4 linked regions of the Homo sapiens genome follow. The protein of the gene in region 2 binds, or shares a complex with, the protein of the main gene of each other region. Each region holds a gene or a part of one and is shown on either strand. Other genes may lie near its edges.

Region 1 (7,327 bases), on a different chromosome or scaffold from region 2:
AAAGCCCAACAGAATGAAATCAAAGCTATTTCATCCAGTGCTCTAATTAGAAGCTAAGGGCTGCTGCGTGTAGCTCTGTAGGGAACAGGAAAAGGGTATTGGTTTGGTTTGATTATTGTAAAATCAACATGAAGAAAGAAGTTGAAAAGGATCTGTTTAGAAAACAACATAACAAAATATTAATATATTAGTAAATTGGCAAACAAAGTTCTAAATTTTAAAAGCCAATACTCAAAAGGATGTGGCCAAAAAATTATATATTCTCTTTTTTGTTTTTTTGAGACAAGGTCTCCTCTGTCTCCCAAGCTGGACTGCAGTAGCACAATCAAGGCTCACTGCAGCCTTTGACTCCTGGGCTCAATCGATCCTCTCTCCTCAGCCTCCCAAGTAGCTGGGACTACAGGTGGGTGCCACCAAGCCCTAAAATTATATATTCTTATATACTACCTCTCTCTCTGTGTGTGTGTGTGTGTGTGTGTGTGTGTGTTTACACACACATTAATTTCGGAGTCAATAAAAGTTGTTTTTTGTTGTTTTTTTTTGAGACGGAATCTTGCTCTGTCTCCCAGGCTGGAGTCTACACTCCAGCGCAATCTCAGCTATCTGCAACCTCCGCCTCCCGGATTCAAGCTATTCTCCTGCCTCAGCCTCCCAAGTAGCTGGGACTACAGGCACATGCCACCACGCTAGGCTAATTTTTGTATTTTTAGTAGAGACGGGTTTTCACCATGTTGGTCAGGCTAGTCTTGAACTCCTGACCTCGTGTTCCGCCCACCTTGGCCTCCCAAAGTGCTGGGATTACAGGCGTGAGCCACTGTGCCCGGCTCTTTTTTTTTTTTTTTTTTTGACACAGAGTTTCGCTCTTGTTGCCCAGGCTGGAGTGCAATGGCGCAATCTTGGCTCACTGCAACCTCCTTCTCCCAGGTTCAAGTGATTCTCCTGCCTCAACCTCCCGAGTAGCTGGGATTACAGATGCCCGCCACCAGGCCTGGCTAATTTTTGTACTTTTAGTAGAGACAGGGTTTCACCATGTTGGCCAGGCTGGTCTTGAACTCCTGACCTCAGGTGATCCACCCACCTCAGCCTCCCAAAGTGCTGGGACTACAGGTGTGAGCTACCACACCTGGCCAATAAAAGTTCTTTAAATTCCAACGGTAGAGCAAACTTGGTATTCAGATTCCTTCCAGGTTTGACCAAAAGTGCACATGAGGGTCACTGCTGTGAGCCCAGGAAGGGTGGGACTGGGCACCGGTTGATCCAATGTGGCTGTTCCAAGGCTGCCCACACAGCCTCACCCAGGAGTCCTTCAAAAGCCCACAATGTGTGTGTGTGTATATAGTGTGTGTGTGTATATACGTTTGATTATTGTATATACACACATTCTTAGTGTTGATGCATTTCAGCACAATCTTGTTTTTTTGTGGGGTTTTTTTTGTTTTTGTTGTTTTGAGACAGTCTCCCTCTGTCACCCAGGTTGGACTGCAATGGCGTGATCTCAGCTCACTGCAACCTCCGCCTCTGTGGTTCAAGCGATTCTTGTGCCCCAGCCTCCTGAGTAGCTGGGATTATGGGCGTGTGCCATCACGCCCAGCTAATTTTTGTATTTTTAGTAGAGACAGTATTTCACCATGTTGGCAAGGCTGGTCTGGAACTCCTGACCTCAAGTGATCTGCCCACCTCGGCCTTCCAAAGTGCTGGCATTACTGGCGTGAGCCACCACGCCCGGCCACACAATCCTTTTTGAAAGCAATTTAGCAATATGAATGAAGAACCATAAAATGTGCATGTACAAAATGGTACAGCCCCTGTGGAAAGCAGCTTGGCAGTTTCTTATAAAACTAAGATACAACTACCATATGACCCAATGATTGCACTCATGGGCAATTATCCCAGAGAAATAAAAATTTACGTTCACACAAAACCTTGTACATGTATTTTCACAGCAGCTTTATCCATAATAACCCCAAACGGAAAACCACCAGATGTCTTTCAAAGGGTGAATGGTTAAACAAACCATGAATACTCTGCAATAAAATGGAACGAACTATTGATACACACAACTTGGATGATCTGCGGGGAACAATGCCGAGTGAAAAAAGCAATCCCAAGAAGTCACATACTGTATGATTCCATTTATGTAACACTTTTGAAATAACAAAATGGCAGAAATGGAGAACAGATTAGTGGTGGGAGGAGGTGGGGGGAGGGAGGTGTGGCTATAAAAGGGCAACTAGAGGGATCCTTGTGGTGATGGAAACTTCTTGTATCTTAACTGTACCAATGTCAATATTCTGGTGGCAAGAGGTTACTACTGGGGGAAAACGAGTAAACAGTACTTGGGATCTCTCTACATTATTTCTTACCACTCTACATGAACCTACAATGTTCTCAAAATAAAAAGTTTAATTTAAAAAATGTTTTTAGAGATAGGGTCTTGCTGTGTCACCCAGGCTGGAATGCAAGGGCTGGATCATAGCTTACTGAAATCTCCAACTGCCGAGCCTTTCAAGCGATCCTCCCACCTCCGCCTCCCAAAGCACTGGGATTACAAGCCTAAGCCACCGTGCCTATCGCAAATATTTACTTAAAAAAAAATCTTCTTTTGGCCAGTTATCCCAGGACGGGAAATCTATCCCGGGAATATAATCCAAAAGAAAACAAAAACAAAAACAAAATCGAAAAAAAGCAAGTCAAATGTACCAGACATTCACTGCAGCATTATTTAAAACAGGGAAAAAAGAAACAATCAGGGAAATACTTAAATCATGATACAGCCACTGGAGAACTACGCAGTCTTTGATGTCGCAACAGAGAAATGTTATTTGAAAAAGGAGGATACAGGCCAGGCGTGGTGGCTGATGCCTGTAATCCCAGCACATTGGGAGGCCGAAGCGGGTGGGATCACTTGACCTCAGGAGTTCAAGACCAGCCTGGGCAACATAGTGAAACCCCGTCTCTACGAAAAATACAAAAAAAAAAAAAAAAAAAAAAAGAAAAAGAAAAAATTAGCCGGGCGTGGTGGCATGCACTTGTAGTCCCAGCTACTCAGGAGGCTGAGGTGGAAGCATGGCTTGAGCCTGGGAGGCAGAGGTTGCGGTGTGTTGATCGCACCACTGCACTCCCGTCTGGGCAACAGAGAGAAACCTCGTCTCAAAAAAAAAAAAAAGAAAGAAAAGAAAAGAAAAAGGACACGAAATTGTGATACGACAACTCTGTGAAGACTACTAGATACATTACAAAATTTTTAATAGTAGTACTCTACGTGGCATTCTGGTAGAAATGATTTCCTTTCCTCAAACTCCCCATAATATTGTTACATGGTTTTTATACGGTCTGGGGGATGGGGGATAACATTAAATGACACCTTTTATGTTAAATCACAAACGCTGGAGTCAACAAAAGTTCTTTAAATTCCTCCAGCAGTAGAGCAAACTTGGTATTCCAATTCCCTCCAGGCTTTGACCAAGAGCGCACACGAGGGCCACCGCCTTCGTGATCAGAAGCGGGTATGACTGGGCACCGGTTGGTCCACTGCGGCTGTTCCAAGCTGCCCCCACAGCCTCACCCCAGGACTCCACCAGGAGCACAGGGAAGGGGTCCCCGAAAGTGGGCGAGGTCGCTGCCCGGAGGTAATGACCACTCCAAGGTCACCATGGAGAACCCGCAGACAGGGCTCGGTGTGGCCCAGGACTCCCCGACTCTTAAGTCCAGGTCTCACTCTCTGCGCCGCGCCGCGCCCCTCGCCCCATCCCGAGCAGCTACCCCGAAGCTCCCAGGGGCTCCGCCGAGGCGAATCCTCACATTGCGGCGTGGTGGCCGACAAAACCCGGGACCCTGATCTTGGCGCCTCCACGCCACCGCCCGGAGGCCAAGACCCCCGAGCGCCGCAGCATAGCGTAGCCCAGACCAGTCACCTCATCCTTTTTCGCCCTCTCAACCCAGCTTTTCCCGACTCCGGGAAGAACCGGGAAGAGAAGGCGGAGGGGAGCGAAGCGCCGCCTGATAAATACTGTGGCCCAGTCCCGCCCCCCTAACGTCACTTCCGCCCCGCGCCAAGATGGCGGCGCCCAGGCCCTGCCACGCAGACTTCCGCCCGGCGCGGAGACCGAAGGCTGGCGGCTGGTCGCGTTGCAGGTGAGGTTGTGACGCGCGGTGTGGAGCCGCGGCCCGGGTGCGTCCCTGTCTGGTTCCTGGGCGGGGTTCCTGGAGAGGGCGTGTCGCGAGCCAAAGGCTCTCACCTGGGTGGTCCCGGGAGTCTCGCCACGTGGGAGGGGAGGAGCTGAGAGGCCACTGGAGGGACGCACCGACTGGGGGACCGGAAAGCAAGGGGGTGGGGTTCCGCCAGGGTCCGCGTGTCAGTCCCCTCTGGTGATCTCGTCGCCCCTTCTCTCCCAGGCAACATGTCGGAAGGAAACGCCGCCGGCGAGCCCAGCACGCCGGGAGGGCCCCGACCTCTCCTGACTGGGGCCCGGGGGCTCATCGGGCGGCGGCCGGCGCCTCCCCTCACCCCCGGCCGCCTTCCCTCCATCCGTTCCAGGGACCTCACCCTCGGGGGAGTCAAGAAGGTACCCAACGGCGCGTTTCTAAAGAAACTCAACTACCTTGAATTCCAAGCCCCAGGATTCAACTAATGTTTGTGTAGGACCTACTGTGTGTCAGGACTGTCGTTGGGCCTCTCAAGCCTACCCCTCTTTAAATTCTAGGGAGTCTGTCCTACCTTCAAATCTAGGTACTGAGTACAAGATGTTGAAATGACTCCCAGAGGTGGTTGAAGGGCAGAGAATCCTAATAAGTTAAAGTCGTTCAAAAGCAATTTGAACAGTGTTTATTTACTTTTATTGTGTGTTTGGACATCTTTAAGAAACCCATGAAAGCCAGACAGGCATAAACTTCGCAGTCTTAGAGGGTTCAGAATTCACCATCTCTGTGTGCAAACTTTTTATCTAGAGTATGATGAATCCTAGGTATGGCATTCGAGGCTCTGTGGCCTCTCCCATGTGTATATGACTGTGGATGTCAAGAGTAGCCCAGAAAGGGGTGGGGTCAGGATGACAGAAGAACAAAGCAGGTTTTGGTTTTGGTTTTGGTTTTTTTTGAGAGGAAGTCTCGCCGTTGTCCCCCAGGCTGGAGTGCAATGGCACGATCTCAGCTCACTGCAACCTCTGCCTCCCAGGTTTGAGCGATTCTCCTGCCTCATCCTCCTGAGTAGCTGGGATTACAGGCGCCCGCCACCATGCCCAGCTGATTTTTGTATTTTTAGTAGACACAGGGTTTTGCCATGTTGGCCAGGCTGTTCTTGAACCCCTGACCTCGTGATCCGCCCGCCTGCCTCGACCTCCCAAGGTGCTGGGATTACAGGTGTGAGCCACCGCTCCTGGCCGAATAAAGCGGTTTTTTGGTTTTTTGTTTTGTTTTTAAGGGAATCTCTTTCTGTCGCCCAGGCTGGAGTGCAGAGGCACCATCTCAGCTCACTGCAACCTCCGCCTCCCGGGTTCAAGCGATTCTCCTGCCTCAGCCTCCCGAGTAGCTGGGATTACAGGGGCCCGCCACCGCGCCCAGCTACTTTTTGTAGTTTTTAGTAGAGACGGGTTTCACCATCTTGGCCAGGCTGATCTTGAACTCCTGACCTCGTGATCCACCCACCTTGGCCTCCCAAAGTGCTGGGATTACAGGCATGAGCCACAACGCCCAGCCATAAAGCAGTTTTTAAAAACCTAACTTTGCCTTGGAAAATTGTGGTGACAGTCCATAGTCACCTGATTGAAAGTGTTGGCAGATCTATGGCCTTCCCTACTTAGGCCTTGCTGCTAGAGCTGTTCCCCCATGATACTGACTGGTCTCTATAGCAGTTTGAAGAGAAGAGGTGAGACCAGAGAAATTCCTTTGCTTTTAGAAGTCCCAGAGGATCTTCTTTCAGAGGCAGAACCTAAGGCTGCTGGTTAAAAGTGGGTTTTGGTGCCCCCTTCTATGTGTAACTCCACTGCTACCACACTATGACATTCCTCCTTTTCAGGCACATGTGTATCTATAAAACTGACAGCACTGTGGAATGTGCCAACGAGAGCCGTGGTGGCCTTGGTCTGTAGAAGATGCCCTTTGGGAATTTTTATTTTCCTCTGTACTTTGGGGTCAGAACCTAACACATCAGTGACTCCTGTATTTTGCTTTCAGAAAACCTTCACCCCAAATATCATCAGTCGGAAGATCAAGGAAGAGTAAGTAGCTAGGCCTTCTGAATACTTGCCCCTTATTTACTTGCTCTGAATTTGGGGCTTTGGGGGAAATAACTAGGTTTGTAGCTCCAAAATTTAAATTTATATCTTTAGTTCTTTTCACTAGTGATTTTCAACCCTGGCTCCTAGGTGATTCTGCAAGCTTTAAAAAATAAATAAATAAATAAATAATTACTGGTGTCTAGGGTTCCATCTTTAGAAATTGTGATTTAACTTGCTGGCAGTAGAATGGAGTGATTCTCTTTGTTGCCCGAGTTGAGAGCCAATAGTTTAAACAAAGATGTATCACACTTTCCCTGAAGTTCCTTTGCATTTCTGCCTTCCTGCTTTCAGTCCCAATGCAAACAAAAATCTATATTTTTGGACAAGAAGGTAAAGTAAAGCAAACTGAAAAAATCCTGCCTCATCAAGGAAGTGAGAAAAGTGCTAGAATTAGGATTGGATTCTGCTTCTCATGGTGTAAATATTGGCTCAAACTCTCCACTGTTTTGGAGTGAAGTGGTATGGGAGAGTAAGGCCAGATTTTGGAGACACAGTGAGTGAGTGGTTTCCCTTAATCCATTCTTTTTTCCAGGCCCAAGGAAGAAGTAACTGTCAAGAAGGAGAAGCGTGAAAGGGACAGAGACCGACAACGAGAGGGGCATGGACGAGGGCGAGGCCGTCCAGAAGTGATCCAGTCTCACTCCATCTTTGAGCAGGGCCCAGCTGAAATGATGAAGAAAAAAGGTATAAGGAAGGAATCAGTGAATTTCAGTTCAGACTGCCCCAGAGAAGGGCGAGAACAGTGGAATTTCCCCACTCCCATTTCCGTTTTCCTTGCTGTTGGGCATCTTCCTTATCGATCCCTAGTGACCTGGGTGATTTCCCACAGGGAACTGGGATAAGACAGTGGATGTGTCAGACATGGGACCTTCTCATATCATCAACATCAAAAAAGAGAAGAGAGAGACAGACGAAGAAACTAAACAGATCTTGCGTATGCTGGAGAAGGACGATGTGGGTACCAGGAGGCTGGGGGAAGGGGTTTCCTTGTGGCTGTAGAACAGGGCTTCTGGGGAGCCAGGTGAGGGGTAGAAGAGCTTACTGATGTCCTG
Region 2 (8,093 bases):
TCCAAGAGTGGACAACCCACTGGGCCTTGGAAAGGGTCTGGAGCTGGAAGCCAGAAAACCATCAGGATTTCCCTGACTCTGCTCTTCTCACTCTCTCATTCCCTCTTTTTCTATACACTGGCTTTTGTCTACCTCTCCAACTCACCTCACAGAATATAGCCATGCGAAATCCCCCTTTCTTCCTAGTTTTAGCCAGCCTCAGAGACTAATTCCAACGCAACACGGTCAAATTAACAAATCGGGCCGGGTGCGGGGGCTCACGCCTGTAATCCTAACACTTTGGGAAGCTGAGGTGGGCAGATCACTTGAGGTCAGGAGTTCGAAACCAGCCTAGCCAACATGGTGAAGCCCCATCTCTAATAAAAACACAAAAAAATTAGCCCGGCATGGTGGCGTGCATCTGTAATCCCAACTACCTGGGAGGCTGAGGCAGGATAATTGTTTGAACTTGGGAGGCAGAGGTTGCAGTGAGCCGAGATCACGCCAGTGCACTCCAGCCTAGGCAATGGATCGAGACTCTGTCTCAAAACAAACAAACAAACAAAAAAAAAACAAAATCAGTAACTCACGGAGTCTCAGTTCACATTCTCAAGAGAGAATTTGATTGGTCCAACCTGAATCCTACGTCCACTGAAGAACGGTAGAACCCACTAGCCATGGCTGTGGGGGTGGGGCGTGCAGCACAAAGGTGGCTGCCAGGGACCCACTCTCTGGCTGGTCAGGCAGTTCCTAGAAAAATCAGACTGGGCAAAGATGCCAGCAATTATCCTTGACTGTGAGGATATTTCCTTTTGGAAAATCCAGTACCCAACTCACAAACAAAGTCCTTCCTGGTACTAAAATACCATGACAAACACTCCTATTGACTTAAAGGGGTTATTCCTCATTCAGCTTTGAACTCCCCACAATGCCTACCCTTTGTCTTCAATCCATGGCTGCTTCTGTATTTTTTTTTAATGTCTTGAAGAGCAACAAACTTTTCTAGCACAAGAAAATCTTTGCATATCATTACATATGTTAAAGGTAGATGGATGGCCAGGTGTGGTGGCTCACTCCTGTAATTCTAGCACTTTGGGAGGCTGAGGTGGGAGGATAGCTTGAGATCAGCCTAAGCAGCAAAGCAAGACCCCGTCTCTACAAAAATACAAAAGTTAGCCCAGTGTGGTGGCGCGTGGCTCTAGTCCCAGCTACTTGGGAGGCTGAGATGGGAGGATCATTTGAGCCCAGGATGTCAAGGCTGCAGTGAGCTGTGATCATACCACTGTACTCCAGCCTGGGCAACAAAGCAAGACCCCGTCTCTCTAAAAAAAAAAAAAAAAAAGGTGGTGGATGGAGGGGGAGAAAAGCCAGGCTAAGGAGGGATTGAAGAGGAAAGACATAAAATGCCCAAATGTTAGGGGTGTGTACCAACTGGATATTAGCCAGAAACTTGAATCATGGCCCTGAAAAGTCTAATACCAGTCAATGCAAAATGAGAATTCTACTTATAAAAGTGTGATTTATATAGTTTTTGATGTGTCTAAAGCATCACCAGCGTTCGTAGAGTTCCTGCCTAATTCCCCCATTCAGTCACCTTAAGCATTGACTCCACTCCCTGTGTTGAACAGAACTAATGGAGAAAGTAATCCACGTAAATGACAGAGGGAAAGAGAAACGATAGAGAATGATAGAGGACAAAACCTTAGATATGAGGGATATTTGAGATTTCTTACGCCAATAAATGTGAAAAATCAAGTAATGGGGCTTTGTTTTCCCAGAAAACGACAACTTGCCAAAGTTGACTCAGGAAGAAATAGAAAAAAAAAAAAAGTCATCAAAAGTCATATAATTTGGCAAAATGGAAAAATATATGCATATCTATATCTATATAGAGAGGGTCTCACTCTCTCACCCAGGCTGGAGTGCAGCACCTGAATCTCGGCTCACTGCAGACTTGACCTCCCTGGCTCAAAGGATCTTCCCACCTCGGCCTCCCAAGTAGCTGAGACTACAGGCACATGCCACCATGCCCGGCTAATTTCTTTTCTTTTGTTTTTTGGTAGAGACAAGGTTTCTCGATGTTGCTTAGGCTGGTCTTGAACTCCTGGCGTCAAGCAATCCTGCCACCTCAGTCTCCCAAAGTGCTAGGATTATAGGAGTGAGCCACTGAGACCAGCCTATTATTAATATTATTATTATATAATACTAGGGAAAGTATAAATATAGACCAGCAATTTCATTTCTAGTGTATACCCTAGAGAAATGTCCATACGTAAGACAAGGAGCCATGTGCAAGGATACTTCCTGCCATATTGTGTGTAATGACAAAAATTTAGTAACAACTTAAAAGTTGTACATGGCATGGAATGAATGAATTAGATCTATAGGCATCATAACAGACCTCAAAAACATAATGTTGGGCCTGGCACAGTCTCTCATGCCTGTAATCTTGGCTACTTGGGAAGCTGAGGTGGGAGGATGGCTTGAGCCCGGGAGGTCTAGGCTACAGTAAGCTATGATTGCACCACTGTACTCTAGCCTGGGTGACAGAGCAACACTCTCTTAAAATAATAATAATAATAATACTGTTGAAATGAGAAAAGCAAGTTTTAGGATATCAGTACAATGTGCTAACATTTATATAAGTGAAAAACATACAGATAACCATTTTAGATATTATTCATAAATTTTATAGTAAAAATGTAAGAAATTATTGGAAAGATACACATCAAATTCATGACAGTTATAGACAGGGGAGAATGGGAGGGGGACTTATTTCTATTTGCAATGGTCTAATAATTTCTATTTGTAATAGTGTGATCTATTTTTTATTTATTTATTTATTTATTTATTTATTTATTTATTTATTTATTTGAGACCGAGTTTCTCACTGTCGCCCAGGCTAGAGTGCAGTGGTGGGATCTCGGCTCGCTGCAACCTCCGCCTCCCGGGTTCAAGCAACTCTCCCGCCTCAGCCTCCCGAGTAGCTGGGATTACAGGCATGTGCCACCACGCCAGGCTAATTTTTGTATTTTTAGTAGAGACGCTTGAACCCAGGAGGCAGAGATTGCAGTGAGCGGAGATCGCACCACTGCACTCCAGCCTAGACAGCAAGAGCGAGACTCCACATCAAAAAAAAAAAAAAAAAAAAAAAAAAAAAAGAAAAGAAAAAAGAAAAGGAAAAAAATGCCACAATACTAAGTCATTAATTTAATGCCAGGTGGTGGCACTATGGATGATAATTTTTTTCTTTGTAATTTTTGTGCATTTTTGTTTTTAATATCTTTGCATATCCACACGGATAGGTATTTTAAAATACAGTCTGGTGAAAAATAACAGCCAATTGCAGATCTATATGAATAATGTGACAATATTTGTGTTCAAATCCATACACAATAAAAACAAAGCTATCTTCTATGGCTATATCTATATATATCCATATAGATATAAACATATAAATTCACAGCAAAAGATCTAGAAAGATATATAGTGTTTTAGTCCATTTTCTGTTGCTTATAACAGAATACCTGAAACTGGGTAATTTGTAAAGAAAAGGAAGTTATTTCTTACAGTTATGGAGTCTGAGAAGTCCAAGGTCAAGAGTGTGCATCTGGTGAGGGCCTTCTTGCTGGTGGGGGACACCTGCAGAGTTCCCAGGCAGTACAAGCCATCATATGGAGGGGGTGCTGAGCTGCTCCCTTGCTAGCTAAGGTCTCTCTCCCTCTTCTTATAAAGCCATCAGTCCCCCTCCCAAGATAACCCATTAATCCATTAACCCATTAATCCATGAATCCATGAAGAGATTAATCCATTCATAAGGGCTCCACCCTCATGATCTAATCACCTCTTAAAGGGCCCACCACACAATACTGCCACATTGGGGATTAAATTTCCAACACATGAAATTTGGGGGACACATTCAAACCATAGTTCATATTAAACAGATAATAATGGTTAGTTACCTCGGCGGAGGGGCCTAGGATGCGAGTCAAGGTCAAAGAGCATTTGTACCTTATCTGCAAAGTTTAAATATTTTGCAATAATTCGCGTGTTATTTGTGTAAGTAAAAATTTAAACATAATTTTTCAGAGACAACTGCCCAGACCAGCTCCAGGGTTTGGCCGTCAGATCCCCTGGTGCATGTTTCTGATCAGATCAATTTCTTCTCCCGGAGACACCCAATCCGGGTCGTATGGATTACCTGTGGGTTAACCAGGGGTCTCCGGGTTAACCATCCAACTCAGAGTAAAGTTTCTAAAAATGCGTTTTGCTCTAATACCTATTCGGAACCAACCTGGGTCTAAAGACTGGAGCAAGTGTTTATTTTCCAAAACACGGCTTTTTAAAATAATTCTATAGGGATCACCTTGAACACACGTTAAGCAAAAAAAAAACCTCAGCGAAAACGCCTCGCAATGTCCAGATTAAATGCAAAAGCAAAAGCATTAAGTAGCTTTCTGGCATAAACATATTGCAGCTGGGTAGCGTGGCCGAGCGGTCTAAGGCGCTGGATTAAGGCTCCAGTCTCTTCGGGGGCGTGGGTTCGAATCCCACCGCTGCCAGGGTTGCTGTCTTTTTGTCCCCGCTGCATACACTCCTGGCTCAGTTTTGCGCGTGCCATCAGCGCCCCCTGCTGCAGGGCGGGGCTCACGGCCTGCATGAATGGCGCGGCGGAGGGGGCGGAGCCGCGTGCACCGGGGCGGGGCATTGTGGGTAAGAGGAAACGCTGGGGCCGGCCCGCTCCCCCCCACGTGTCCGCCGGAGTTTCTCCACCAGCAACATGGCCGCCGCCTGAGAGGAGAGCCGGGCCGCCGCCGTCTCTGCAGCCCGCGGGTAACTGGGCCGTTGCCGCCGTCCGCGCTCGGCCCCCGCGGAGAGGTGAGTCCCGTCTTGGCAGTGCCCGAGCTGGGGCTTGAGCCGGACCGCACTCACGACGTGGGCCTGGGCTAGATTCCCGAGTAGGCCAAGGAGGCCCGCGCCGCGCTGTGCCTAGCAGCTGGAGGCCTCTCGGGACTCGGGCGGGGAGGAGGGGCAGCCGGCTCCAGGCCGACCCCGGACTCTGACTTCCTTGACCTGACACCTGGGAGTTGGGGAGGCCGCGGCCGACGCTGGCGGCGGTGACTCAGGGTCCAGCCGACCTGCCCTATCCGGGCCTGGGAGGCCTCCTACGGAAGAAACACCTGTCCGCGCGTCGGGTGTAGTGGCGGCTCGCGGCAGGGACTGCGTGGTGGGCGTGAGAAGGGGGGCCTGACCACCCGCGAGGGAGCAGAAACCCATTGGACAGCGAGGCTCGGGATCGGCGGCCCGCCCCGATGGGCAGGGAGGGCACCTGCGCCTGCCGGAGCCCCCACTTCGCAGCTGAACCGGATTAGCCTCTGCCCGGCGAGGCCAGGGATTCCTCATTCATTTATTCAGGCAACCATTCAGTGTTTACCGAGCCAACTCTGTGTTCCGGATACAGCCCTGACCATTCGGTCCGAGGAGGTGTCAGTAAACAAACAAGGTCGTTCCTTTGGGTTAGCTTTAGAATTCCTTGGGCTTGGAGGCGGAAAGAAGAGATCTTAGCGATCTCCACAGTTTCCTCATCTGTGAAATAGAGATAATAGAAATTCCTACCTCATAGGGTTGTGGTGACGGCTCAGTAGAAACCGGGTGACGCTCCTGCTTGCAGCGTTTGACTTGTGGCTTAGCGTCATTACCCGCTTACGTTGGCAGAAAACATGTTGTCAAGTAATAACAAACCTTCCCAGAGGTTACGTTTATTAGCGTCCTGTCCTTACTCCTTCCCCGCAGGGGTCTGGAGGTCGGTACTTAGTTTCCCTACTTTAGGGATGAAAATAGGGAGGAATACCAAACCCAGACAACTCAGGTGGGTCACAGATGCCAAGCAGCTGTGGTGGGATTTGAACCTGCACAGTTTTGTTCTCGGGTCCAAGCTCTTACCCACTTAACCATACTGCCGTTTATCAGAAAACCGTGCAGTATAGTGGTTAAGAATAAGAATAAGGATCTTTGACATAGCGAGACCCAAGTTTCTGTCCTCATTCCACCTTGGATGAGTTGCTTATATCTGAACCTCAGTCTCGTCATTTCCAAATTGAAGATGATAAATCTCTATTGATAGGGCTAATGAGAAGATTAAATATAAAGTATTCTTTGTACTATATTGAGTGTCAACTTCGTGCCAGGCACTGTTCTAGGTATTGAGAGAACCAGCACTGGATTTTTTTTTTAAAGTAATGCTCCCCATAACAGCTTTGATGAAGTAAAGTATGATTGTCTGCATTTCATAGTTGAGGAAACTGAAGCACTGAGAAGCCTTCATGGAGCTTACGTTCTATTGCAGAAGACAAACAACACCTGAGCAAATAGACCAGGTAGTTCCAGATTAAGATGAGACCCACCAAGGAAAGAAAACAGAGATGTGGTAGGGCCTGGGAGGAGGCTGGGGGAGGCTTTTAAAATAGGGTGGTCAGGGAACCTATCCTCTCCTGCAGGCGGTGATGATATTTAATAAAAAGGAGCAACCTTGGAAATCCCTGTGGGAGAATAGATGATGTGCAAAGGACCTGGGGTGGACTGGGGCTTGCCTTGTTGGAGGCCCAGCAAGTGGCTACCAGCCTGGATGGTGAGGGGAAGACAGAGACAAGATTATGTAGGGCCTTAGGTGGCTCATGGAAAGGAGTTTGGGTTTTATTTTATGTGACAGTGGCAGTTGACAGGTCTTAGGCAGGGAAATAATATGATTTACTTTTTTTTTTTTTTTTTTTTTGAGATGGAGTCTTGTTCCGTTGCCCAGACTAGAGTGCAGTGGCAAGATCTCGGCTCACTGCAACCTCTGCCTTCTGGGTTCAAGTGATTCTTCTGCCTCAGCCTCCCGAGTAGCTGGGATTACAGGCGTGCATCACCACGCCTGGCTAATTTTTGTATTTTAAGTAGAGACGGGGTTTCACCTTATTGGCCAGGCTTTTCTGGAACTCCTGACCTCAGGTGATCCGCCTGCCTCGGCCTCCCAAAGTGCTGGGATTACAGGTGTGAGCCACCGTGCCTGGCTTTGTTTTCCCCCCAGTAGAGATCGAGTCTCACACTGTGACCCAGGATGGAGCGCAGTGGTGTGATCATAGCTCACTGCAGCCTCAAACTCCTGGGTTCAACCAATCCTGCTGCCTCAGCTTCCCAAGTAGTTGGGACTGCAGGCCATGCCAGGCTAAAATTTTTTTTTAAAGAGAGACCGGGGGGCGGGGGGCGCCTCACTATGTTGCTCAGGCTGGTCTCGAACTCCTGGTCTCAAGCAGTCCTTCCACCTAAGCCTCCCAAAGTGTTGGGATTACCGGCATGAGCCACCATGCCAGCCTGATTTACTTCTTTCCAAAGACTCACTGTTGCTGGGAGACTTGGAGGTAGGTATAAGGAGCCGTAGGGAGACTTGGATGAGTGCTTTTCACATTGCAGGTTAAAATTTATTAGTGGGAAGTAAAATCAATTTAAGGGAATTGAAGCTAGCATTTTTTGTTTTGAATGAAGTAGAAAACATCACGGCCTGACATATAGTAGGGACAGTTATAGTTACGTGAAACCTTGTTTCAGTTATGCAACTGTATGTATGTTCTGGGTTATTTATATGAGATGGATTTCTTACTGTGGTGGATCTTAGGCTGAAAACTTTGAAAGCCACTGAGTTGGATCACCTCGGCCTGGAGGATGAAGGGAGGTGACACTCTTTGTATCAACCCAGATGTACTATCCAGAGGAAGGAGCTCCAGCTCTCTAGCTGACAGGGCACCTCAGCCTCCCTGATCCCTGGCAGGGCAGAGGCCAACAGGGCATAGCAATAGCCAAGAAAGAACAATTGCGTCTTGGGAACCTCCCAGGCCCCAGCCTCTCAGTTGTCCACTGCCCAGCTGCAGAGAAGGCAGGAGCTTGACATATCTGTGGCACTTGGCAGCCGGTGCAGATGGGGTGAGGCCTTGGGCTCTCCGCTCTACACTGCCCTCTGTCTGCACAGCAGACAGTCGAGATGCACTGAAACTGTCCAGATGCGACTCCTGATTTTCATTCCATCCTCCATCTCTGGGACTGTTACGATAGCTGTTTCCCTGAAGTTTCTCTTTCTA
Region 3 (7,607 bases), on a different chromosome or scaffold from region 2:
AATATCCCTAATGAACACAGACACAAAAATTCTAAATAAAATACTAACAAACTGAACCAGCAGCACATTAAAAAGCTAATGCAGGCCAGTGTGGTGGCTCACACCTGTAATCTCAGCACTTTGGGGGGCCAAGGCAGGCAGATCACTTGAGGTCAGGATTTCAAAGCCAACCCGGCCAACACGGGGAAACCCCATCTCTACCAAAAATACAAAAATTAGCCAGGTCTAGTGGTGCAAACCTGTAATCCCAGGTATCTGGGAGGCTGAGGCACGAGAATCGCTTGAACCCAGGAGGCAGAGGTTGCAGTGAGCTGAGCTCGTTCCACTGCACTCCAGCCTGGGCTAAAGAGCAAGACTCCATCTCAAAAAAATAAATAAATAAAAATTAAAAGCTAATCTACCACAATCAAGTAGTCTTTACTCCTGGGATGCAAGGTTAGTTCAACATAGGCAAATCAATAAATGTGATTCATCACATAAACAGAATTAAAAACAAATACCACATATCAGGCCAGCCGCAATAGCTCATGCCTGTAACCCCAGCACTTTGGGAGGCTGAGGCAGGCAGATTGCTTAAGCCCAGAAATTTGAGACCAGCCGGGGCAACATGGCAAAATCCCATCTCTACAAAAAAGAAAAAAAAATTAGCCAGGCATGGTGGAACACACCTATCTACTACTACTCAGGAGGATATAGTGGGAGGACACATTGAGCCCACAAATTCAAGAACAGCCTGGGCAACAAGACAGAATAAATTCTGTCTCTATTTAAAAAGAAAAAAAGAGGCCGGGTGCAGTGGCTCACACCTGTAATCCCACCACTTTGGGAGGCCAAGGTGGGCATATCACAAGGTCGAGATGGAGACCATCCTGGCCAACATGGTGAAACCCCGTCTCTACTAAAAATACAAAAATTAGCTGGGCATGGTGGCACGTGCCTGTAGTCCCCACTACTTGGGAGGCCGAGGCAGGAGAACTGCTTGAACCCAGGAGGTGGAGGTTGTAGTGAACCGAGATCGCACCACTGCACTCCAGCCTGGTGACAGAGCGAGACTCAGTCTCAAAAAAAGAAAAAGGGAATATACTGTATATTTGAAAATTGCTAAGACAGATTTTAAGTGTTCTCACCACGCAAAAATAAGTATGTGAGGTAATGCATGTTAAATAGCTTGATTTAACCATTCAGTGTATACATATATCAAATCATGCTGAACACTATAAAAAATATAGTATACAACTTTTAGTTGTGAAAAAAACATGATTTATTAAATATTTCTCCCTTCTTCATCAACTCCCTCTTCCTTTTGCTACCTCACAGTCTTTGGAATTCTCAATCTGAAATGTACCCATCCCTCAAAACTCAATTTAAATCCCACTGGCCACACCAATGCTATGAAATTCCCCTCTCTGAATCCTAAAGCACATATCCTCATTCCCTTTATGCTGTTACTTTTTCTATGTTTGCCTTGTCTTTCCCCAAAAGCTGTAAGATCCTTAAGGGCAGGAGCCACATATCACTCCCTATCACCTCCAGGACACTCAGCAGAGAACCTTGGATATATTTAGGAAGAATCCGGTTATACTCAATTGTGTTAGGCCTCAATTTACAAATCAGATATGACAAATAATATATCACACCAAAAAGATCAAGAAACTTCTCCAGGCATTAACTAAGGCTTAGAAAAACACCTATTCAGCTTTTCAAATTATCCCTTTGAAGTAAGGACTTAAAGGTGAGAAGAAAAGATATAATCAATTGGGGAAGTTTAGACTGTCTTCTCACTCTTTTTTTTTTTTTTTTTTTTTTTTTGAGACAGGGTCTGGCTCTATTGCCCAGGCTGGAGTGCAATGGTGCGATCTCAGCTCACTGCAACCTCTGCTTCCTGGGGTCAGGCAATCCTCCTACCTCAGCCTCCTGAATAGCTGGGACTACAGGTGCATGCCACCACACACACGGCAAATTTTTTTATTTTTTGGTAGAGACGGGGTTTCTCCATGTTGCCCAGGCTAGTCTCGAACTCCTGAGCTCAAGCGATCTGCCTGCCTTGGACTCCCAAAGTATTGGGATTACAGGCCTGAGCCACCACGCCTGGCCAACTTCTCACTCTTAAAGGCAAAATAGTGAACAGCAACTTAAAGATCAAAAAAGCTAAGGATGGAATATTCAACAAGGCATCACATTCAACAACACACCACTGGTCACACACATACTGGCTGAATTCCAGACTCCCTCTCTATGGTAGAAGAGTTCTGCAGGCTCTGATGTTGGCTGGAAAAAAACTAGACACCTGCTCTTCCCAGCACTGAAATATGGCCAAAAAAAAAAACATAAACACACAGCAAAATCAGCAAACAAAGCTAAGTAGCATTTAGGCGGGGAGCAGTGGCTCACGCCTGTAATCCCAGCACTCTGGGAGCCCGAGTCGGGTGGATCACTTGAGGTCAAGAGTTCGAGACCAGCCTGGCCAACATGGTGAAACTGCATCTCTACTAAAAACACAAAAATTAGCCAGGGTGCGGTGGTCGTGCACCTATAGTCCCAGCTACCCGGAGGCCGAGGCAGGAGACTCTCTTGAACCCGGCAGGTGGAGGTTGCAGTCAGCCGAAATCATGCTCCTGGGTGATAGACAGAGGCTGTCTCAAAAAAAAAAAAAGAAAAAAGAAAAACAGCTAAGTAGCATTTAGATGAAACTATGACTCTGAAGTAGGGGGTGCGGCAAGTAGAGAGGAAAGAATGTATCATAATGCCTTAAACAAAACTTTTGAGTGAGAGAAGACTATAAAACACCCTTTAAGCACTTATTCACTGGACTCCATTTGTGTTTCTAAGAAATAAGATATACAGACTCACTTCAGAAGGTTTTCTCCTACACTGTATCTGAGACACCATAAATAGAAACATACATTATGTTGCCACTCTATCACAAGACTGAACCTGGACACTTGTAAGGAAAGGAACAACCATAAAGACAGTTGGCCAAGGACAGGATTGACATTCACTCTGGGGGAGCTCCTCGTAGTAGCTACAACCCAACCCAAAACAGTTTCTGGGTTTGTGATGCTGGTGCTGGCTAGTATGCTGCATAAATGTTGTTTGTTTTTGTAGAGAGGGGTCTCACTCTGTTGCCCAGGCTGGTCTCAAACTCCTGGCCTCAAGCAATCCTCCTGCCTCGTCCTCCCAAAGCACTGGGATTACAGACCTAAGCCACCGCGCCTGACCTACAAAAGTGTTTTCTTCCCAACCACAGCACTGCCTCTCAAGGGGCTAACACTCTGGCAGAAACTCGTGAAAACCAATTTCACGTCAGAGGAAGCATCCCCAACATTCTGTCCCGGCTCTTTTTCTTAGGTGAAGAAAGGGACAGGGCGGGGGGCGGAACAATGATATTAAAGACACTGGCAGCATGACAACCAAAATAAACGAAGTTGAAACAGTACGTCCTGCCTTCTTCCTAAAGCCATTTCCTTCAACAGTGATAGGAGTGCAGACCGTCTGCAAGTCATTAGTACGCTGCTGTCTTCACTGTCACAAGGACCCTGGAAACCACTGAAGAGCAAAATCCCCCTTTTCGCCCCACAGATACCTTCCAACCCCCTTTCTGTGCTTCCTTCCCTAGAAAAAACCGAAGAGTGACAATCCTCAGCAATCCGCTATTTCGCTTCACTGACAAGGGAGGTGGCGGGGGCGGTGGGGGGTGAAAAGTGGAAAAGAACACAGAGGAAGGTGAGAAGACACAGTGGAAGAAGTGTGGGGGGAGGTCATCGTAGGAAAAAGACCAGGTATAAAAGAATGCAAGAAAATTGAGGGGAGAGTTATCAGAGGGAAACTTGCTAAGAAAAAAAAAAATTAAGGACACGGGAGGTAAAGAGGTGAGGTCAGGTGGAGCAGCCCAGGATGAATTAAGAGGTGGGCAGGAGGTACGGGGCCGAGGCCGTGATGCCCAGGGTTTAGGGCCGGCGGCTTAGAAGTGGGCAGCAGGTATTCGGCAGACCGATGTCGGGCGAGTCAATGATGTGCAGAAAGCTCCAGACCCAGTTCCGGGAAATCGGGGCCAGGAATCTATGAGGTTCCCAAGTATAGAGAACACAGCGCTCTTACCGGTAGTTTGGGGCTGACCTCGCCCTTGCAAAAGTGGCAGAAAAACCGGTGGGCGGCTACAGCGGCGCCCGAGTCCGCCCCGGCCGCCGAAGCCTCCGCCATTTTTGCCCTCCGCCGCGGCCGTCCGAGAGGGCAGCCGGCCCGTCCCTCGCCAGGCCGCTACCTCCCGAGCTGCAGTCGTCGCCGCCGCCGCCGCCTCGGTGCGGCCCACCGCTTCAGAGCCCGCGTCGGTCACGTGAGTTGGCCAGGCCCAGAAACGCGGCGGCGCCAACAGCTACCCTGCGGCCCGCCTCCCAGCACCAAAGAGGCGCAGGAAGGAGAGACAAACGGCCCGCCCGCCGGCTCCACAAACAGCCCCTCGCTGGTCCTCCAGTCTTCCAGCGAGAAGAAAGAAAGAGCGTCCCCGGAAGCCGCCGAAACTCTGGGGTAGAGTGGCACGCGCTTTTTGCTTTTCCGCGTCTTCTTCGGTGGCGATCCGCGTCCTAGAAAGGGCGGTGGGCTCCACCTCGGCCTAGAAGGCCAGCGGGAGCCGTAGGAAGCCGTCGCGGGAAGCTCAGCCGAATTGGAGTTGGAGCCCCCGGATTGCGCTGACCCTGAGGTTAGTGGAAAATGCTGTCTGAACGTGGCGGCACTGACTGGACCAAGAGACCACGTCCGAAACGGGAACCTGTGTAAAGGAAGTGTAGAGCTAGGAGCCAAGCGCCTTGGAAGCCCTTTCCGAGGATGGCAAAGGATCTGGGAATGCTTCTCCAAAGATATGTGGATGGACGAAATAGGTCTCTGGTGATACTGAGGCGGGGTGGGGACGGGGAGGCAAAGACTTGGCTTCTTAGGAATTGGAAGAAATAAGTAAACAATGTTTGGTAGCAATTTGTAATAAGGAAGTAATCATAAAATTAACTACGTCCGTTTCTGATTGTGTCAACTTTGTCAAGGAGTAGAAGTTTAAGAATTGAATACTGTCCTGCAAACAACGTAACCTCATCTCCTGTTTGACACACCCTGTTGAGAAGCAGTCCTTTACCTCCTAAATTTCTTTTTCGAAATTATCATTTCCTTTATGGACTGAGAATAACACTGCCTGTTCACTCCCACCGAGCTGTGAACAGTGACCTTAATTCTTCCAAGCAGTGAAGTGTAGAAACTAAGGTCTGTGACAGACCGCAAAATCATCTCCCAATCTTTAAGGAAAATCAGAATCACGCATAATCCCATAGAGATAAATTTGATGCATAGTCTTTTCCTATGCATACATTTTTCCTTTTTTTTTACAATAATTGAATTTTTATATTTTTTCAGCTTGCTTCTGTCACTTAATATATTATGAGTAATTTTTTTTGTTTTTTTTTGTTTTGGAGACAGAATCTCGCACTGTCGCCCGGGTTGGAGTGCAGTGGCGCGATCTCGGCTCACTGCAACCTCTGCCTCCCGGCTTCAAGCGATTCTCCTGTCTCAGCCTCCCTAGTAGCTGGGATTACAGGCACCCGCCACCACGCCCAGCTAATTTTTTTGTGTGTTTTTAGTAGAGAAGGGGTTTCACTATATTGGCCAGGCTGGTCTCAAACTCCTGACCTCATGATACGCCCACCTCGGTCTCCCAAAGTGCTAGGATTACAGGCCTGAGCCACCGCGCCAGCCTATTATGAATAATTTTCTACATGAATACGCATCGTACTAAATAACTTTAAATGTTGGTGTAGTATGCCATTGTATGGGTATGGCATCATTTATTGTTAGACGTTAGATTGTTTCCACTAAGTCGGTATTATAAAGAGAACTAATGACTTCATTATTATTAGCTTTTTCTTTCTTTGGACACAATATCCAAAAAGAAATTGTTGTTTCAAAGATATGCAAGATTTTTAAGGCTTTTTGATATGTATTGTCAAATTGCCCTCCAGAAAGAATACATGAATTTACACTCAGCAGCTCTGCTTCCAGCGTGAAAGACTTTCTATTGTACCATTTTGGTGTTTTTTCCCTAGCTCTCAGACTCCCCAGTACAATGACTCAAGCAGAAATTAAGCTCTGTTCTTTGTTGCTGCAAGAGCATTTTGGAGAGATTGTAGAAAAAATTGGAGTCCATCTGATAAGAACCGGCAGCCAGCCACTAAGAGTAATTGCCCATGACACAGGAACATCACTGGATCAGGTATGTCTAAATGACATTCATTTTCTCTCATTTCTTTCACTAATTTATTTCACCCACCTTTGAATATTGTTCTTCTCACCCCAGAAAAGGAAAAATGAAGAAAGCCTGCCCTTGGAGCAGAACAATGTTATTTCGGGGAGAAAAGGATGAGACTTAGACATCAACATTTTGTTTCTCAAAGTGTTCCTAGTTCATCACAGCTTTTAGGCAAATCTTTGCTCTTCCCATGCCGTACCTCATTTATTCACAATAAGTCTATTAATCTCAGTACTGCCTTTAAGGAATGAGAATGATGAAAGTAAATTGTGTTTTGAGAGATAAGGATCAGAGGAAATATAGCAAGGAATCTTCCTGATTTATTGTATTGATGTGTGATTCTTATTAGCTCCTCCAGTGGAGAGAGGAAATAAGTGCAGAAATTATCTAGCCATTTTCTGATGCTTACTAAGCTGTTGGACAAAAAATTGCCAGCAGTAATGAGCTATATCTTCAGGTCTTTCCTCTCTTTCTTCTCTTTATGTTCCATTTAGGTGAAGAAAGCCCTGTGTGTCCTCGTCCAACATAACCTGGTGAGTTATCAAGTGCACAAACGTGGTGTGGTGGAGTATGAAGCCCAGTGCAGCCGGGTATTGCGAATGCTTAGATATCCCCGGTACATCTATACTACCAAAACTCTGTACAGTGACACTGGAGAGCTGATTGTTGAGGAGCTTCTGTTGAACGGCAAACTGACAATGTCAGCTGTTGTGAAGAAAGTGGCAGACCGGCTCACAGAGACCATGGAGGGTCAGTATGGTATCCATAGCTGTTAACAAAAGCATAGATCAGCTGGCTATGGGAGTGAACCCTGAGCTATCTTAGGCCATCTCATCTGCCTTTTTCCTCCTGTTATACAGATGGCAAGACCATGGACTATGCTGAAGTATCAAACACATTTGTGCGACTGGCAGACACACACTTTGTACAACGCTGCCCTTCGGTACCTACCACTGAGAATTCAGACCCTGGGCCACCACCACCTGCCCCCACACTTGTCATTAATGAAAAGGACATGTACCTGGTTCCTAAACTCAGCTTGATAGGTAAGGAATTTTAACCCCTGGAACTGTGACTTGCCTTAATTGTGGATTCTTCTTGATTGTCAAGTGTATGAAATGTGATTGTATTTACCAAGTATTTGCTATGTGCCAGACATCGTGGTGTATAACAATGAAAAAATCATGGTCTCTGCCATGGGGCTTTAGTATAGGAGACATACATTAATCGGAAAATCACATCGATATATCATTAAACGGTGATAAGTACTATGAAGGAAATATTCCTATGAAGGAACTGTCATAGTATTATGAGACATGCA
Region 4 (7,423 bases), on a different chromosome or scaffold from region 2:
CTGTAGGCGTTGTTGCCAACCAGATGTTGCATAAAAAACATGAAATTCAGCATGTCTCTGGTGAACATTCTCTGTCCCCACGCCCACCCTTCACCCTGCTCTTGCTTCCTCTCTTTCTGGGTGAGGGGAGCATGTGTGCGCTGTCCCATCAGCTCCCTTCCTTGCTCATCTCCTGGCCTGGCCTCCCACGCCGGAAACCTGCAAGCCATTCTCTTCCTTTCATCTCACAGTCAGGGAGTCCCCAAGTTCTGTTGCTTCTGTCTTCGTTCTTGCTTCTCTCCCCCGTGTACTGCGTTGATTTCTGCCATTATTTCTTCACGCGGCTCTTGCGGTTATCCTCTCCCCATTCTCCCTGGCTCCCCAAGTCCATCTCCCACATCACCGTCAGAGATCACATCTAAAACCATGAATGTGATCCCATTTCCCTGCATAAACCGTTTATTTAGTACAGCCTCATCACTTGTGAAGTCCGCTTTGTACTGAGAGCGTAGGCTTTGGAATAGGAGGAGGCAGCCAGAGTAGAGGGGCCTACGATGGGATAAGGGGCCCGGGAAATGATCCAGGGAGATACCCGGGCCACCACTGGGCACGCTGTGGCCGCTGCCTTCTTATTACAGGGCAGAGAGCATCGGTACCTGACAAGTGTTAAGCAGGCCGTCTAATTGCCAGTTTAAAAAAAAAAAAGAAGAAGAAACTTTAGAGAATTAACAAAATGAGAATAAAGCAGTTTCCAAAGTCAGTTTTAGAAATACTTAGCTCTTTGTCAAATTTCCTTTAGAAAAGTATGGAAGAAAATGGTCAAAAATACGATTTTTAGAGTTGCTAATGGAAAAACTTTTTAAAAGGCCACAGGGTATTTAATTTTTTACTAAATTGTTCATTGTCTTCCTAGGGTTGTTTTTGCCCTTCAGAATGTACCCAAAATTAAATTAGAACAGTTCCTTTCATGAAGGGTGCCTTTCTCTGGGAACCCGCCTGTAGGCTAAATAGAAACCCCTTTCTCATGTGTCCTGATTATTTTCATGCTTTACACTGTATTGGAGTTTCAACCTAGAGCTTAGAGGAGAGAAAAAACAAACAGAACAGCAAGAAACGAATCCCTGTCCCTCTGGGTTAAAGATCATATGTCATGTCTCCTCCAGCTTTAATCAGCAACATATGTTACTCATGGCTTAATGACAGGCAGAGAGAAGAGATGAGGATTAGTGTGACCTCAGCCAGAGCCTGTGGAAAGTGGTATCATTACTTGGGGGAAGATTTGCTGCTATTGAGAGTGCCTGGGGTGGGCCGGGCGCGGTGGCTCATGCCTGTAATGCCAGCACTTTGAGAGGCCAAGGTGGGCAGATCACCTGAGGTCAGGAGTTCAAGACCAGCCTGGCTAAAGTGGTAAAACCCCATCTCTACTAAAAGTACAGAAATTAGCTGGGCATGATGGTGCACACCTGTAATCCCAGCTACTTGGGAGGCTGAGGCAGAATCACTTGAACCCGGGAGGCCAAGGTTGCAGTGAGCCAGGATTGCACCACTGCACTCCAGCCTGGGTGACAGAGTGAGACTCCATCTTGGGAAAAAAAAAAAAAAAGAGTGCATGGGGTGTGCCAGACACGGTCTCAGTCCTTGGTCCTGGTGCCTGTGATTGTCTGTCACTTCGAATGCCCGCCCCATAGTCTTGGAAGGGGGCAAGTGTCCTCTCCATTTTAGCCCAGAGGGCTGGTGAGTGGCTGATTGGGACCTTCTGATTCAGAAGCTTTACTTTGCTCCTCCAAGCCAGGTACTTGTGCTTGATGAGAAGAAAGATGTGTGTGGCATCCCCTGAGATGGTTTCCTTCTCGTTTCTACAAAGTAGGTAGGCCTTGGTAGAAACTGCTGTTTCTCAGTAGTTGGACCATTTTATAGCCAGATTCTTCCCACTCTGGAATTTGGCTACAAAAGGTAGCAAATTGTTTACCAAGGTTTGTAGCAGTATCGCTTCTCACCAGAGTGAATAAGAAATGAAAGCTGTGGCCGAACATGGTGGCTTGCGCCTGTGATCCCAGCACTTTGGGAGGCCAAGGTGGGAGGATTGCTTGAGGCCAGGAATTCAAAACCAGCCTGGGCAACATAGTAAGACCCCATCTCTACAAAAAATGAAAAAAATTAGCCAGGTATGGTGGCGCACACCTGTGGTCCCAGCTACTCAGGAGACTAAGGTGAGAGGATTGTTTGAGCCCAGAAGTTCAAGGCTGCAGTGAGCTATGATAGTGCCACTGTACTCCAGCCTGTGTGACTGAGCAAGAACCTGTCTTTTAAAAAAAAAAAAGCAAATGGCTGGGCACGGTGGCTCACGCCTGTAATCCCAGTACTTTAAGAGACCGAGGTGGGTGGATCACCTGAGGTCAGGAGTTTGTGACCAGCTTGGCCAACATGGCGAAACCTCATCCCTACTAAAAATACAGAAATTAGCTGGGCATGGTGGCGGGCACCTGTAATCCCAGCTACTTGGGAGGCTGAGGCAGGAGAATCGCTTGAACCTGGGAGGCGGAAGTTGTAGTGAGCGAAGTGTAGTGAGCGTGACTGCACTCCAGCCTGGGCGACAAGAGCGAAACTCCTTCTCTAGAAAACAAAAGGAAATAAAAGGTTTCACTTACAGTGGCAAGCACAAAGGACTTGAGTGAGAAGTTCCCTATATTAACACTAGAGCCATTTTTTCTCCCTGGGTTCAGAAAACAGTCCCAGCATCCAACATTTATTAGCATTCACTTGGAAGCCAGGTGTCTTTTGGAGGCTGAAGCCTCACCTCTTCAGTTACGCCTGGGCTGTGATTTGCTGTGGCCCTCTGATGACTGCCTGCTGACTCAGAGGCTCGGTGAGGAAATGAGGTGGCCACCCAGCTTAGGACTTGTTGTGCCCGGTTGTGTATTGATTTGGAATGATTTGTGAGCCCTCCGGCCTGAGGTCAGTGAATCCTGTGACCTCACAGGCCACTGCCCTGAACAGCACTACCATCTAGGCCTGTTAGTGATTTCGTGATTATGAAGTCTTGACTCATATAGAGCGTTATTGCTTGTAAAACACTGTTACATGTGTTCTCCTTTTGTCCTCGCTGTAGGCGTTACTTTCATTTTACATTAGAGAAAGTTGAAATTTAGAAAGCCAGATTCAGTGAACTGTTCTGGATCAAATATTTAATAGTATACATTGTTGCTATCAGATCTTTGAATCATTTTGAGGAAAGTAGGACTTTAGGTTTGGCGACTTCAAGTTGCCATTTTTGGAGGTCGGCAACCCGGTTTGATGCTCCTGGGATTGAGATAATAAATGTATCATTTATGTTAACCCAGCTGTTGATACTTTGGATTTTTAAGTTTTATTTCCCCTTATGTTCTCAACTACCTGAAATGGTTGGTATCTGAGAACCTTGAGATGGTGCTTTGAACTTTACTTCTTTATTTGGACTGTTTCTCCTGTGTTGGAAAGAAAAGGTGAAAGGCCGGACACAGTGATTCATGTCTATAACCCCAGCACTTTGAGAGGGTGATGTGAGAGGATCACTTGAGCCCAGGAGTTCAAGACCAGCCTGGGCAACCCCATCTCTACAAAAAATAATAAAAAATAATTAGCTGGACATGGTGGCACATAGCTATAGTCCCAGCTACTTGGAAGGCTGAGGCAGGAGGATTGCTTGAGCCCAGGAGTTTGAGACTGCAGTAAGTGATGATTGCGCCCAAAGAATAAAGCAGGGAAAGGAGGGAAATAGCCAAGATTTGATTATTTAACCTGGAGAAAAGATGATCTCCGTTTGAGAAAATAATGTGCAGAAAAGAATTTTGCTAAGTTCACTAACGGCCGGAGCTTTTATCAACATCCAATCCTCCTTAATTACAGTCAAGACCTTTTTTTTCAACCTAAGGTTCCCAGTCACAGGAAGAAACCCTAAGCTGCATTAAACTAAATGAAATATAAACAAAAAAGAAACTTTCAGAAATAAAAAACTTACTAGCACGTCTTGGATCACTAGGATAAATGACAATGACTACATTATCCCTCACCCCCACCTTTTTTTTCCCCAAAGAGAGTGGGTCTTACTCTGTCACCCAGGCTGGAGTGCAGTGGCACGATCTTGGCTTACTACAACCTCTGCCTCCTGGGTTCACACCATTCTCCTGCCTCAGCCTCCCGTGTAGCTGGGACTACAGGCGCACGCTGCCACGCCCAGCTAATTTTTTGTATTTTTAGTAGAGACGGGGTTTCACTGTGTTAGCCAGGATGGTCTCGATCTCCTGACCTTGTGATCCGCCCACCTCAGCCTCCCAAAGTGCTGGGATTACAGGCGTGAGCCACCGCACCCGGCCCCATGTCTGATTTTAAAAATGGGTTTTTGGCCGGGCGCGGTGGCTAACTCCTGTAATCCCAGCACTTTGGGAGGCCGAGGTGAGTGGATCGCCTGAGGTCAGGAGTTCGAGACCAGACTAACCAACATGGAGAAACTCTGTCTTTACTAAAAATACAAAATTATCTGGGTGTGGTGGTGCATGCCTGTAATCCCAGCTGCTAGGGAGCCAAGGTCATGCCATTGCACTCCAGCCTGGGCAACAAGAGTGAAGGGGGGGAGTTGAAGATTGTTTCTTTCTCAGAAGAGAATTTACATTTTCCTGAGCCATGGAATCTTTAGAAAATGGTCATTTTATTTCACAGCATCATAGGGAGTAGCCCCCATTGATTCACTCAGGATCTCCCCCATCCTGGGACACCAGGATTATTATCTAGTTGCAGAAACACTTTTGGGCTGAAGTGAGTGGAGAGACCAGGGTTTTGCCAGGAGTTCGTGGTGTGACCTTGGGCGTGTCACATGACTTCCTGAACTGTGCTGTTGTCTGTAAAGGGAGGTGGTCAGACTGGGATCCTCTCCAGGATTGCAGGCCTGTCTTATTATCTTGTTTTACTTCAGTCTGCCAGGATTTCTTTCTGGAACTCCCTGTGGTCCCAGTTGCCGGATTTCAGAGATTGCTGTGGGGAATGCCATGGAATAGAATCTGGCCACCTTGAGCTGAGAAAGGTGTTTGTGATTGATGGTTGATGCCACCAAGCAAACAGGGTTAAGCAACTTGACTGCCTGCCTGCTGCTTTTAAAAAGGCAGCTGACGACCTAATTCTGTTTAGAATTAGGGGCGAAGCTAAGGAAACTGGCTCAGGCTGTGAGTATCATCTCTAGATTCAGATTTCTGGGACCACATCAGAAACCAGGTTTTATGTGGACCTTTGATGGGCAGTGTGGTGTGCAACGTGGGGGACTGTGGGTTTTAGACTGGGCAGTTCTGGCTGGGGATTCCAGTTCTACCCCTTAGCAGCATTGTTGGGAGGACGAAAGGAAATGCCGGATGGGAAGTGCAAGATGCAGCTCCAGACACATGGGAGGCCTCCCTGCAGGGCTGTTGCTAGTGGGAGTGAGGATTAGAAGAAGGCTCCAAACCATTTGGCACATAGTGGGCATCATCAACCGTGTTGCTGATACAGTTCATTAAATTACAGATGTGTGCCTGGCACAGTGGCTCACGCCTGTAATCCCAGCACTTTGGGAGGCCAAGGTGGGTGGATCACAAGCTCAAGAGATTGAGACCATCCTGGCCAACATGGTGAAACCCCGTCTCTACGAAAAATACGAACAGTTAACTGTCTGTGGTGGCTCGTGCCTGTAGTCCCAGCTATTCGGGAGGCTGAGGCAGGAGAATTGCTTGAACCTGAGAGGCGGAGGTTGCAGTGAGCCGAGATTGTGCCACTGCACTCCAGCCTGGCGACAGAGCAAGACTCTGTCCTGCCCCCCCAAAAAAAAAATTACAGATGTGCTTGTGAAATATAAAAGTACATAAAGTGCCATTTAACTTCTTCGAGATGCATATGCAACCTGTTCACCACTTCTCTCTGTGTGTGTGTGTGTGTGTGTGTGTGTGTGTGTGTGTGTGTGTGGTTATATAACTTAGCTTTTTCCTTTTTTTCTTTTCTTTTTTTTTTTTTTTTTTTAGACAAAGTCTTGCTCTGTCACCCAGGCTGGAGTGCTTGGCTCGACCTCCTGGGCTCAAGTGATCCTCCCACCTCAGCCCCCCAAGTAGCTGGGACTATTGGCACACACCACCATGCTTGGTTGATTTTTTTTGTTTGTTTTTAAGAGATGGGGTTCCTCTGTGCTTCCCAGGCTGGGGGTTTTCCTTTTCTTTAAAGAAAAATGCTATCCTACAACTTGGTTTTTACTGACCCATTTTGATCAGTCGCATTGGCTCAGTCCAGGATGTGACTTGGCTCCACCCTTCCGTCTGTAAGATGGAGAGGACTCACGAGGACCCAGGCTGTGAGGTCTGTGTGCCAGGAGGCCGGGCTGAGACCATGAGCACAGTGGGCAGGGCTGCCCAAGGCTGTAAGTTTCATTTGTAACCCTGGAGGATTTTCTTTCCTTCTGCAGATGGTGGAAGAGAGTGAAGAGCGGCTCACGGAGGAGCAGATTGAAGCTCTTCTCCACACCGTCACCAGCATTCTGCCTGCAGAGCCAGAGGCTGAGCAGAAGAAGAATACAAACAGCAATGTGGCAATGGACGAAGAGGACCCAGCATAGAAGAGCACAGCTGGCCCCGGCGTTTCATGAAGTCAGAAGGCCTGGCAGCCATTTCCTGGACGTTGAGAGGATTGTTTATTTGATTTTTATCCTCATCCCAGCAGGCCTGGCTTTGTGGTTAGTTGGGTACATCACAAAAATAAGTTAAAAAGAAATATTTGTGCCTTGGGGAGAAGAAACATGGTGAAAACAGGCTGAGGTTGTCAGGGCAGAGAGCTGAAGGTGGGGACAGTGACCGCGGACCCCTCTGTGCTTGAAAGATTTCCTCCACGGCCTTTGCCCCAGTTGTGGGGAGGTCTCTGTGCACAGCGGGGAAAATGCTTGTGTCGCCTTTGGTGGGCCATGTCCTAATTAGTTTCATCTGCTTCCCTGGGAACTTACTAAGGGGCCCAGAGCACTGTTGGAAGTCTGGTTAGAGTCCCCAGAGAGTTACTCTAAGTTAAAATGAGCCACTGACCTTGGCTCACCTTAGAGGAATTTCCTCGAGAACAACAGAGATAAGAAAAGAACCGGCCTGGCCAATCCTTCAACAGCTCTAGAGCCCCTTTTCTCTGCTGGCAGGGGCTTTGTTTACCAGCTCACTGTTTAGGCTAAATGTTAGGGACCAGATCACTGCAGTTGAAAACGGGCACTCCAGGCTTAGTGACAGTGGCAGCAGAAACAGTGTTGGCTGCCTTTCTGACCACCCCACTTTCCTGCCCTGAGACAGCAGCCCAGGGCAGGTGCTTCATATTCAGACCAGGTAAGCCTCATTTGCACAACAGTCAAATTGTTTGTTCCTTTAAAAAGGACACAATTAGCCTGGCACGGTGACTCATGCTTGTAATCCCAGCACTTTGG

What was found.
Region 1: POLR3E (region 2) and POLR3D share a complex: the UniProt entries of both Homo sapiens proteins name them as parts of the RNA polymerase III complex.
Region 3: POLR3E (region 2) and POLR3C share a complex: the UniProt entries of both Homo sapiens proteins name them as parts of the RNA polymerase III complex.
Region 4: POLR3E (region 2) and CRCP share a complex: the UniProt entries of both Homo sapiens proteins name them as parts of the RNA polymerase III complex.

The regions. Positions count from the first base shown.
Region 1 is NC_000008.11:22,241,050-22,248,376, forward strand, and holds the start of POLR3D (DNA-directed RNA polymerase III subunit RPC4), read left to right. Parts: upstream 1-4,083; 5' UTR 4,084-4,134; intron 4,135-4,395; 5' UTR 4,396-4,400; coding exon 4,401-4,565; intron 4,566-6,171; coding exon 6,172-6,215; intron 6,216-6,807; coding exon 6,808-6,959; intron 6,960-7,104; coding exon 7,105-7,229; intron 7,230-7,327. UniProt on the Homo sapiens protein: DNA-dependent RNA polymerase catalyzes the transcription of DNA into RNA using the four ribonucleoside triphosphates as substrates.
Region 2 is NC_000016.10:22,292,681-22,300,773, forward strand, and holds the start of POLR3E (DNA-directed RNA polymerase III subunit RPC5), read left to right. Parts: upstream 1-4,728; 5' UTR 4,729-4,857; intron 4,858-5,740; exon of another isoform or gene 5,741-6,356; intron 6,357-8,093. UniProt on the Homo sapiens protein: DNA-dependent RNA polymerase catalyzes the transcription of DNA into RNA using the four ribonucleoside triphosphates as substrates.
Region 3 is NC_000001.11:145,819,674-145,827,280, forward strand, and holds the start of POLR3C (DNA-directed RNA polymerase III subunit RPC3), read left to right. Parts: upstream 1-4,526; 5' UTR 4,527-4,696; intron 4,697-4,771; exon of another isoform or gene 4,772-4,855; coding exon of another isoform or gene 4,856-4,874; intron 4,875-6,083; coding exon of another isoform or gene 6,084-6,103; coding exon 6,104-6,250; intron 6,251-6,780; coding exon 6,781-7,036; intron 7,037-7,146; coding exon 7,147-7,332; intron 7,333-7,607. Other genes in the region: E3 ubiquitin-protein ligase RNF115, read right to left, coding at 4,099-4,200. UniProt on the Homo sapiens protein: DNA-dependent RNA polymerase catalyzes the transcription of DNA into RNA using the four ribonucleoside triphosphates as substrates.
Region 4 is NC_000007.14:66,145,775-66,153,197, forward strand, and holds part of CRCP (DNA-directed RNA polymerase III subunit RPC9), read left to right. Parts: intron 1-6,433; coding exon 6,434-6,583; 3' UTR 6,584-7,423. UniProt on the Homo sapiens protein: DNA-dependent RNA polymerase catalyzes the transcription of DNA into RNA using the four ribonucleoside triphosphates as substrates.